Linked DNA regions of Homo sapiens. The protein of the gene in region 2 purifies or fractionates together with the protein of the main gene of each other region. This does not show direct contact. Each region holds a gene or a part of one and is shown on either strand. Other genes may lie near its edges. The genes, in order: MFF and SPATA19.

Region 1 (3,816 bases), on a different chromosome or scaffold from region 2:
AGGGGGAGGCAGGAGAATCACTTGAACCCCGGGGTGGAGGTAGCAGTGAACCGAGATTGTGCCACTGTACTCCGGTCTGGGCAACAGAGCCAGACTCTGTCTCTCAAAAAAAAAAAAAAAAGGTACTGATACATGCCACAACATGGATGAACCTTGAAAACATGTAAAGTTTAAGAAGCCAGACAACAAAGGCCATATATTGCATTTTTCTACTTACATGAAATATCCAGAGTGGCCAAATGAATGAAGACAGGATACAGAGCAGTGGTTGTCAGGGGGTTAGAGGAGAGGGGACTTGAGAGTGACTGCTTAATCAGTATGGGGTTTCCTTTTGGGCTGATGAAAATATTCCGGAATTAGATAGTGGTAATGATTACACAACGTTGTGAGTGTACTAAATGCCGCTGAATTGTACACTTCAACATGGTTAAAATTGTGTATGTTATGTGTGTTTTAAAATAAAAAAGAAAATACCTCCAGACATTGCCAAATGTTCTCTACAGGGCAAGATCACCCCCTACTGAAAACCACTGACCTATCTCAAGAAAGGAGAAGGCTTATGAGGAAGCCTATAAAATTGTTGTCTGAAAGCCTGATTGATGCAAGGGATAAATTTGTAGAAAGCAGTTGTACTTGAGTTCTTAAACTGGCTTAAAGAATCCAGGTGAGCCCTTGAGGAGGGCTTAAAACATAACATAAATAATCCCTTAGCTCAAAGACAGTTTAAAAATGTGAGGCTTGGCTGGAAGAGAGGAAGTTGACAAACACTTTCAATATGCCTAATCTCCACCAATATTTGGAAATCAGCTCTAAGATAAGACCATTGCTTGGTGATTCTGTCTGCTGGGAACTAACAAAGCAACTGTTCAATAAACCATGTGATCTGGGCATGAAATACAAAATGCCCAAGTCATGACAGTTTTCAGTGTTCCTACAGTAGACTAGGCAGTGTGAATGAGGAGAAAGAAGCTGTAACACTGACATTACCAGCTCTTCTCAAAAAGGAATCCGAACTGGAGCCAGTGGGGAAGGATCTTCCAGAGAACAAGAAAGAAGAACTGTAAAGAAAGAGTTGGAAAATGCTGCCTGTAAGAAGATTTGACACAACCTTGAACAGTGTGACTAAGTCAAAGATGTGGACTCTGCCGTTAAATCCTATCAATCAAGCCGTGATATGCTTTGAAAAAATCAGCTACAATAAACCCTAAGAGCTTTGTGAGAAGGCCATTGAAGTTGGAAGAAAAAACAGACTGGTCTAAAGATAGAGAGTAAAAGCTTTTGCCCAAGTTGGCATCTCTTACTTCAAAGAGGAGAAATACGAGAATACTATTCATTTCTATAATAAATCTTTGGAAGAGCACTGAACCCCAGATATACACAAGAATCGTCAATAGTTAGGAATTAATCTGGAAAGAGCAAAATCAGTTGGCATATATAAAATCTGACCTGATTTTGGAGGAGAAGAGTAAAGGCATTGAGTGGTTTCAGAAATGGAACTATCTCCAAGCCATGCCAGCTTTATACAGAAGCCATCAAATGGCATCCTCCACAGGATGCCAAATTCTACAGCAGTTATATCCAAAGTGTACAGCCAGAGCTGGAGGAGTAGAAGAAATATCTAGCTAGATCCACCCTTAACACAGATTATACTTAGAAAGCAGCAGCCTTAGAATCTGAAGGATGACACAAAAGCCATGAATGTCTAGCAGAAGGCCCTAGACCTGTAATTCTACCGTAAAGAAGTAGCAGATGGTTATTGGTGCCCAGTTCAATTGATATGACAACGCTAAGGATGTGAAGCAAAAAACCATAGCTATATGACATATCCTAAAACAAATGCAGAAGGGCTCCCAGGGACTCAGTGAATATTTAAAAGGGTCCTGTGGAAGCTTAGAAAATCAAGAACTTCATGAATATGGGTCTGATCACACTTTGGTGATGGTTTCTTGAGCTCTTTTTCCTTCCTCATCACTTCTGGAAAGAGGAGCTGGGACTGCAATGAGCAGAATGGAGCAAAAGTCTGGAGAGAAGAGGAAAAGCTGAATTGTATATATGTTTACACATTCATGCATGGAAAATTCAGAGATGGACACTTGCGTTCTTTGTACAGCTACAGTTTTATGGCCCTCTTAGCACAAGCATGGTCTCGTCACTCCTGACAAATTGGGCTATGTGTCCTTCCCAAAACCCGCAGTCACTGGCTTAACTGTTCTCCCCATGATTCGTGATTTTAAATTTTGGACAATGCACATGTTGGGGAGGGAAGATATTTATCCCAACTGTTCAGTCTACATTGATAATTTGTACCTTTCCCCCTTCTGCATAAAAGTCCCACAGAAAATGGGGGTGAGTATAGAGGAAAAACACGAAGGCTCTGAGTAGATTCCTGAAGAAGAGGTGGGCTTTGAACAGATTGAGAGAATCAGCCATCAAAAAACCTAGAGGACATTTACTTGCCCAGGAATTTATGAACAATCAAATTTAACTTGGGGTGTAAGCATATTAAAGGAGAATTGTATGCAAGCATGCAAAGTGTCTAGTGCTACATGTTATATAACTATGTAGCACTAGACACTGTGACCCAACTTCCAGGAAGCTGCTTGAACTTAGGAAACTATTTCTCAGCCTCCGGGATGAATAAAACTAAGTGCATAACCACTGAAGGATGATTCTGAAAGACATTTTAAAATTCTGCATTGAGGCCAGGCACAGTGGCTCACATTTGTAATCCCAGCACTTTGGGAAGCCGAAGTGGGTGGATCTCTTGAGGTCAAGAGATCACCAAGCCTGGCCAACATGGTGAAACCCCATCTCTACCAAAAAATACAAAAATTAGCTGGTCATGGTGTGTACCTGTAATCTCAGCTACTCAGGAGGCTAAGGCATGAAAATCTCTTGAACCCGGGAGGCAGAGATTGCATAAGCCAAGATTGTGCCACTGTACTCCATCCTGGGCAACACAATGAGACCCTATCTGGAAAAAAAAAAAAATCTCAGATTGAAACAAAACAAACATCCAGGCCGGGCATGGTGGCTCACACCTGTAATCCCAGTACTTTGGGAGGCCAAGGTGGGTGGATTACTTGAGGTTAGGAGTTCAAGACCAGCCTGGCCAACATGGTGAAACCCTATCTCTACTAAAAATAACAAAAATTATCTGGGCGAGATGGCATGCACCTGTAATCCCAGCTACTCGGGAGGGTGAGGCATGAGAATTGCTTGAACCCAGGAGGTGTAGGTTGCAGTGAGCTGAAATAGCACCATTGCACTCCAGCCTGGGGGAACAGAGTGACACTCTGTCTCAAAAAAAAAAAAAAGAAAAGAAAAACATCCACCTGGGATTACAGGTGTGAGCCACCGTGCCCAACCAAAAACATCAATAAATATTGATTGATATTTTGAAAATCTTAATTTTCAAGTCCTTAATTCACACACTATTTGTTTTTTTACTATAAAGTTTAATTTTTTAAAAACCATAATGTCGGCCGGGCGCAGTGGCTCACGCCTGTAATCCCAGCACTTTGGGAGGCTGAGGCAGCCAAATCATGAGATTAGGAGTTCGAGACCAGCCTGGCCAACATGGTGAAACACCGTCTCCACTGAAAATACAAAAATGAGCAAGGTGTGGTGGCACACACCTGTAATCCCAGCTACTCAGGATGCCGAGGCAGGAGAATTGCTTGAACCCGGGAGGCAGAGTTTGCAGTGAGTCAAGCCGAGATTGTGCCACTGCATTGCAGCCTGGGCGACAGAACAAGACTCTGTCTCAAAAAAAAACAAAAAAAAAAACCATAATGTTGCCATGGCTATTTTAGT
Region 2 (4,375 bases):
GCCCCCAGTCAGGAACACAAATCAAGCAGTTCCAAACAGCTTACCTTCGTCTCACCTGCTCTATTCGATCTCGCATGATGTCCTCTGTCATCTCACTTGGCACTTGGAAGATACGAGTGTGGCTGCAAAAGGCCATTCGTACATTGGCATATGGGATCTGAGTTTCTTTCTTAACAGGCATAGAGAGCTGCTAGAGATGGGATCCTGCAAACAATGACTCTTGCCCTGACACCATGAACTTTTGAGCTGGTCTCTCCCCCTTCTTGACTCATGAGCACAAAGCTTTTTTTTACTAACCAGGTACCCTTGAGCCCCCAGTAATGCTGAACAGGTAGCAGACTGTCCCGGGGAGAGCCAGGGACACAGAGCTGAGTGCCCTTACTAAAGGCAGCAAGCAGTGGTCTCGTGAGCCGTGGAATTCACCCTTCTGAATTCAGTCTTCTGAATTCCTCTCCTATCATCAGCTCTTGATGACCTGCATCACCCCACACCCACTGTGGTTCAGAGATGCTTCTAGGAAAGCCTACAGCGAGGAAGCTGTGGGGTCCCCTGGGGAGCCTCCTTGCTTTGTTTCATAAAGGGATATATATATTTCCTGACTATATACTTACTGAAATAAGAGGGGGACACCAAAACCAGTGGGTTGTGGGGGGAGATAGGCGGAGGCTTTTGGTTTAAAATCTTTGTAGAAAATCCAGAGTGGAAAAATTATATGTAAATAATTGACTGATTCCTGTAGCCTGTCTGAAAAGCTTAAAACTAGTTTTTTTATACAGACGAGATTTTTAAAATATTGGAAGATGATGTGTGTGTTATCCAAACCAAGGAGCACAATGTCCGCAATTCCATAGCACAACCACGTCAGGCACAGAAAAGCCTGGATTATAATCAACAACATTTATGATTTTAGGGGCCTCAGAAGGCTTCCCATCCAAAAAAACTCTTTCCCAGGGAGCTCTCAGATCCCACCATGTTATTCCTTTTGGTTATGAAATTACTGTGCATTTGAGTCTTCCTAAAAGGCAGATGCCACTAGAAGGGGTAAGCACATGGAAACCGTTTCTTGAGAAATGGAGCCTCCTTGATACAACAGATCAACATCGATGATGCGGCAGGGAAAGGAGGAAGAGAGGAGGAAGGGGAGAAGTCTCCTTCAGGTTCCCGTAGGACCAGTCTAAGCCCTCAGTCCCTCTCCTGGGAAGGGGTGGCTGATGTGCTCCAGAGACCCCCAGTGAACACAGGTGCAGGAAAGGAAATAGGAAAGCCTCTGTCTGAAGCATGATGGCTTCAGGCCAGCTCCCTGGGCCTCGGGGCTCAGCATCTGCAGAGCCACGAGAGGCAGTGGGGACGGCTGTGAGCTGGCAGGCACCCGGGACGCTGGCGAAGCCACCATAACCGAGTGCAGAATTCTAGCCTCGGGCGCTGGGAAGCCTCCCCACACCTCAGTTGCAGATGAAAACTTTGGCTTTTGCATTTTAAGAGCTTATTTTCTTTTAGCTCTTTAAAGTGCAGCCACTTCTGAGCAACTCAAGTGCAAAAATAACAGAAATCTGAAATGTATTCAGAAGCATTTAAGAAATGGAGTGCAAGCCCAGTTTTCCAACCCCTCAAGTCATTTAAAAATGTAGAAATGAGCTGGGCTTTCAAGATAGCAAGGATATTCCCTTAAGACCCCAAAGCAAGGCTGAGGAATTTGTCAGCCAAAGACGACATCTCTAGAGAAGAGCATCTGAGGGTTCGTGAAGAGAGGGGCTTGCGCATCTCTCCCTCCCCTTCCTTCGCCCAGGGCAAGTGGGACACCTTACCTCCATCTTATGAACTGGATTCGTGTTCTCTCCTCTAGGACCTCTTGGCTCTGGTTTGCCAACAAATCAGACTTAGAGAGGTGGTGCTTCACCTGGGAAATCCAGAGGGTCCATGTGATTCCTGCCCAGTGTGGCCCCCAACTGGGCTGGCACAGAGCCCAGACGAGCACCTCACCCTTGCCCAGAATCATTTACGGTGCACCTCCCACCTCTCCCCTCTCCCTCACCGCTACTCCCAGGCAAGGTCTCAAACTCTCATTTACCACATCTCTGGTCACGTGGATGTCCTGGCCATGGGTGGGAGGGGAGTCAGTGGACATCTTCTCCCTTACACCCTGGGAAGGGTGGTTGATGGACAGCTTTTCCTTTATGCCCCGAGAAGCCTCTTCTTCTGTCTGAAAGGTGAGAAATTCCCTCTGAAAATGTCACTCTGCATCCAACCCTGGGTCTTCTTCTCCTCTTCCTTTCCTTTTATTCATTCTCCATCACAACTCACACACCACATATTCACACACATACACTCCTTACCTCACTGTTCCCACAATAAGCTACTTCCCTGTAAAGTCCTCAGAACTCCCTAAGTCCCTGGCCCTATCCCAAGGTGTTCCTGAGACACCCTTGAGCTGGGAAGGATGCAGCTGAAACCCTTAAGCCAGGATGCTTGAGAAGCAGGACGGCGTTAGTGGTGGTGCTAACACATTTCCTGCCAGGACACAAGCCACAGTGTCCTCCAGCACATGTGAAGAAATTAGACTCAAATCTAGGAAGGGTGTCTGGCAATGAACTTGAGTTCCAGTTCCATGAAGAAGGAAGTCCAGATCCCCACACCCACTGAGACCACTTCTCTAGCATTTTGGATATCCTGAGTCATAAAGAAATCTTACTCACTTTTTTCAACCAATGATGTAGTACAGACACAGCCTCACTTTCCACAACGTCAATGTCCTGGAACAAATTGGCAAGTTGGTGACCTCAGAAAACCTAGAAATTCAGCTCTTCCCACCCAGCCCCCGCAACTGTTACTCAAATTTATTTGTAAGATCTCTATGAAGTGCAGCAGGGTCCCACAGGGGGAGAAGATATATGAAAAATTATTCCATGTGACTACCACCAAGCTGCTTACCGAACTGGTTATTGGTAGGAAGGGAAGCCCTACACCTTTCCGAGCAAGAATATACACAATCCATGTCGTAATTATCATCTTTGAATGTATACCAGGCCCCCTTCTTGGCTCCCTCCTTCCATTGAAGCTGCCTGAGAACTCCTATGGGACAGGAAGGTCATTGAAGGGAGGTGTCCACCTGATTGGCTGACCCATGGTGATGTGACAATGGCCTCCCTTTGAAAATGATGTATGTGAGTATAAATGCCGTTGCCAAGAGCCCCTGCATTTCAGGCTCTGGGTGCACTCCTATGAGTTACCCTGCTTCAAGGAGCAGAACCATTGAATAAAAGATTGCTGTCTAACACCATTGGCTGACCCTTGAATTCTTTTCTTGGGAAAGCACTAATTTGGGAGCTCACCTCCAGGCAGGAGGATGGGGTCTGGAGCCAGGAAACCTAAGGCCGATTTACACTGACTTCCTAGAACTAAATCAAAAGGAAAACCCCAACTTTCCGTGCCCAAGTAACAAAAAGACCAGAGGCTACGCCCTTTGCAACCCTCTCCTTTTCTGCATGGCAGATGAAAAACTGAAAGTATCTCTGATTGCTCCCCTCCCACAATCAGGCTGGTTGTGGGCCAGGTCTTCATTTGCATAGAGATATAACTTTATAACTTCACTTCAGCCTCTGATTGGTCACTTTCCGCAACCAATCAGACTGATCATGAGCCACTACTTCATTTACATAGGGTATATACCAAGTAACCAATGGGAAACCCCTAGAGGGTATTTAAACCCCAGAAAATTCTGTAACCAGTCTGCTCCCATCCTGTGGAGTGTACTTTTATTTTCGTTAAATCTCTGCCTTTGTTACTTCATTCTTTCCTTCGTTTGTGTGTTTTGTCCATTTCTTTGTTTAAGACGCCAAGAACCTGAACACCCTCCACCAGTAACAACCTGTCCCGCAACAACTTGTCATGTGCTCTTGACCTAATCATTAGTCCCTCTGGTCTGAGTTTCTTTGTCTTATACTGAAAGGGATAGAGTTGTGTCCCTAGCTTTCTTCTAACTCTAATATTCCAAAAATTTTCCCACGTTTATTCTTCTCAGGATTATAGAAAACCTTTTATCACTTTCTCCAATTCCCCTGATACAGCCACTACACGTCTTCCCTCTCAACAATTCGCCTCAATTTTATATCATCCCTGACATAGTCAGAATCGGCTAGGCTCTGCTGAGGACTGAGGCAACAAACCAACCTCCAAATCAAAATGTTTATTTCTCACTCTCAAAAGCTCTCGTGCAAGTTGGGTAATTTCAGAGCAATTGTGTGCCATGTGGAGACTCACAGGTCCACATTCAGAGGACACGACCTCCATGACTGCCAAAGCAGGGAAGAGAGCACAGAGAGGAATCAGGTCAGTGTTCCACCTTTCAGCTCAGAGGCTCCTACTTAGAGCTTTTGAT

Evidence for each region.
Region 1: the proteins of SPATA19 (region 2) and MFF purify together in Homo sapiens (affinity purification with mass spectrometry; 2 studies listed by BioGRID and IntAct, with this or other methods). This does not show direct contact.

The regions. Positions count from the first base shown.
Region 1 is NC_000002.12:227,335,067-227,338,882, forward strand, and holds part of MFF (mitochondrial fission factor), read left to right. Parts: intron 1-3,816. UniProt on the Homo sapiens protein: Plays a role in mitochondrial and peroxisomal fission. Promotes the recruitment and association of the fission mediator dynamin-related protein 1 (DNM1L) to the mitochondrial surface.
Region 2 is NC_000011.10:133,842,441-133,846,815, forward strand, and holds the start of SPATA19 (spermatogenesis-associated protein 19, mitochondrial precursor), read right to left. Parts: upstream 3,074-4,375; 5' UTR 3,007-3,073; coding exon 2,929-3,006; intron 2,751-2,928; coding exon 2,694-2,750; intron 2,201-2,693; coding exon 2,069-2,200; intron 1,898-2,068; coding exon 1,806-1,897; intron 123-1,805; coding exon 45-122; intron 1-44.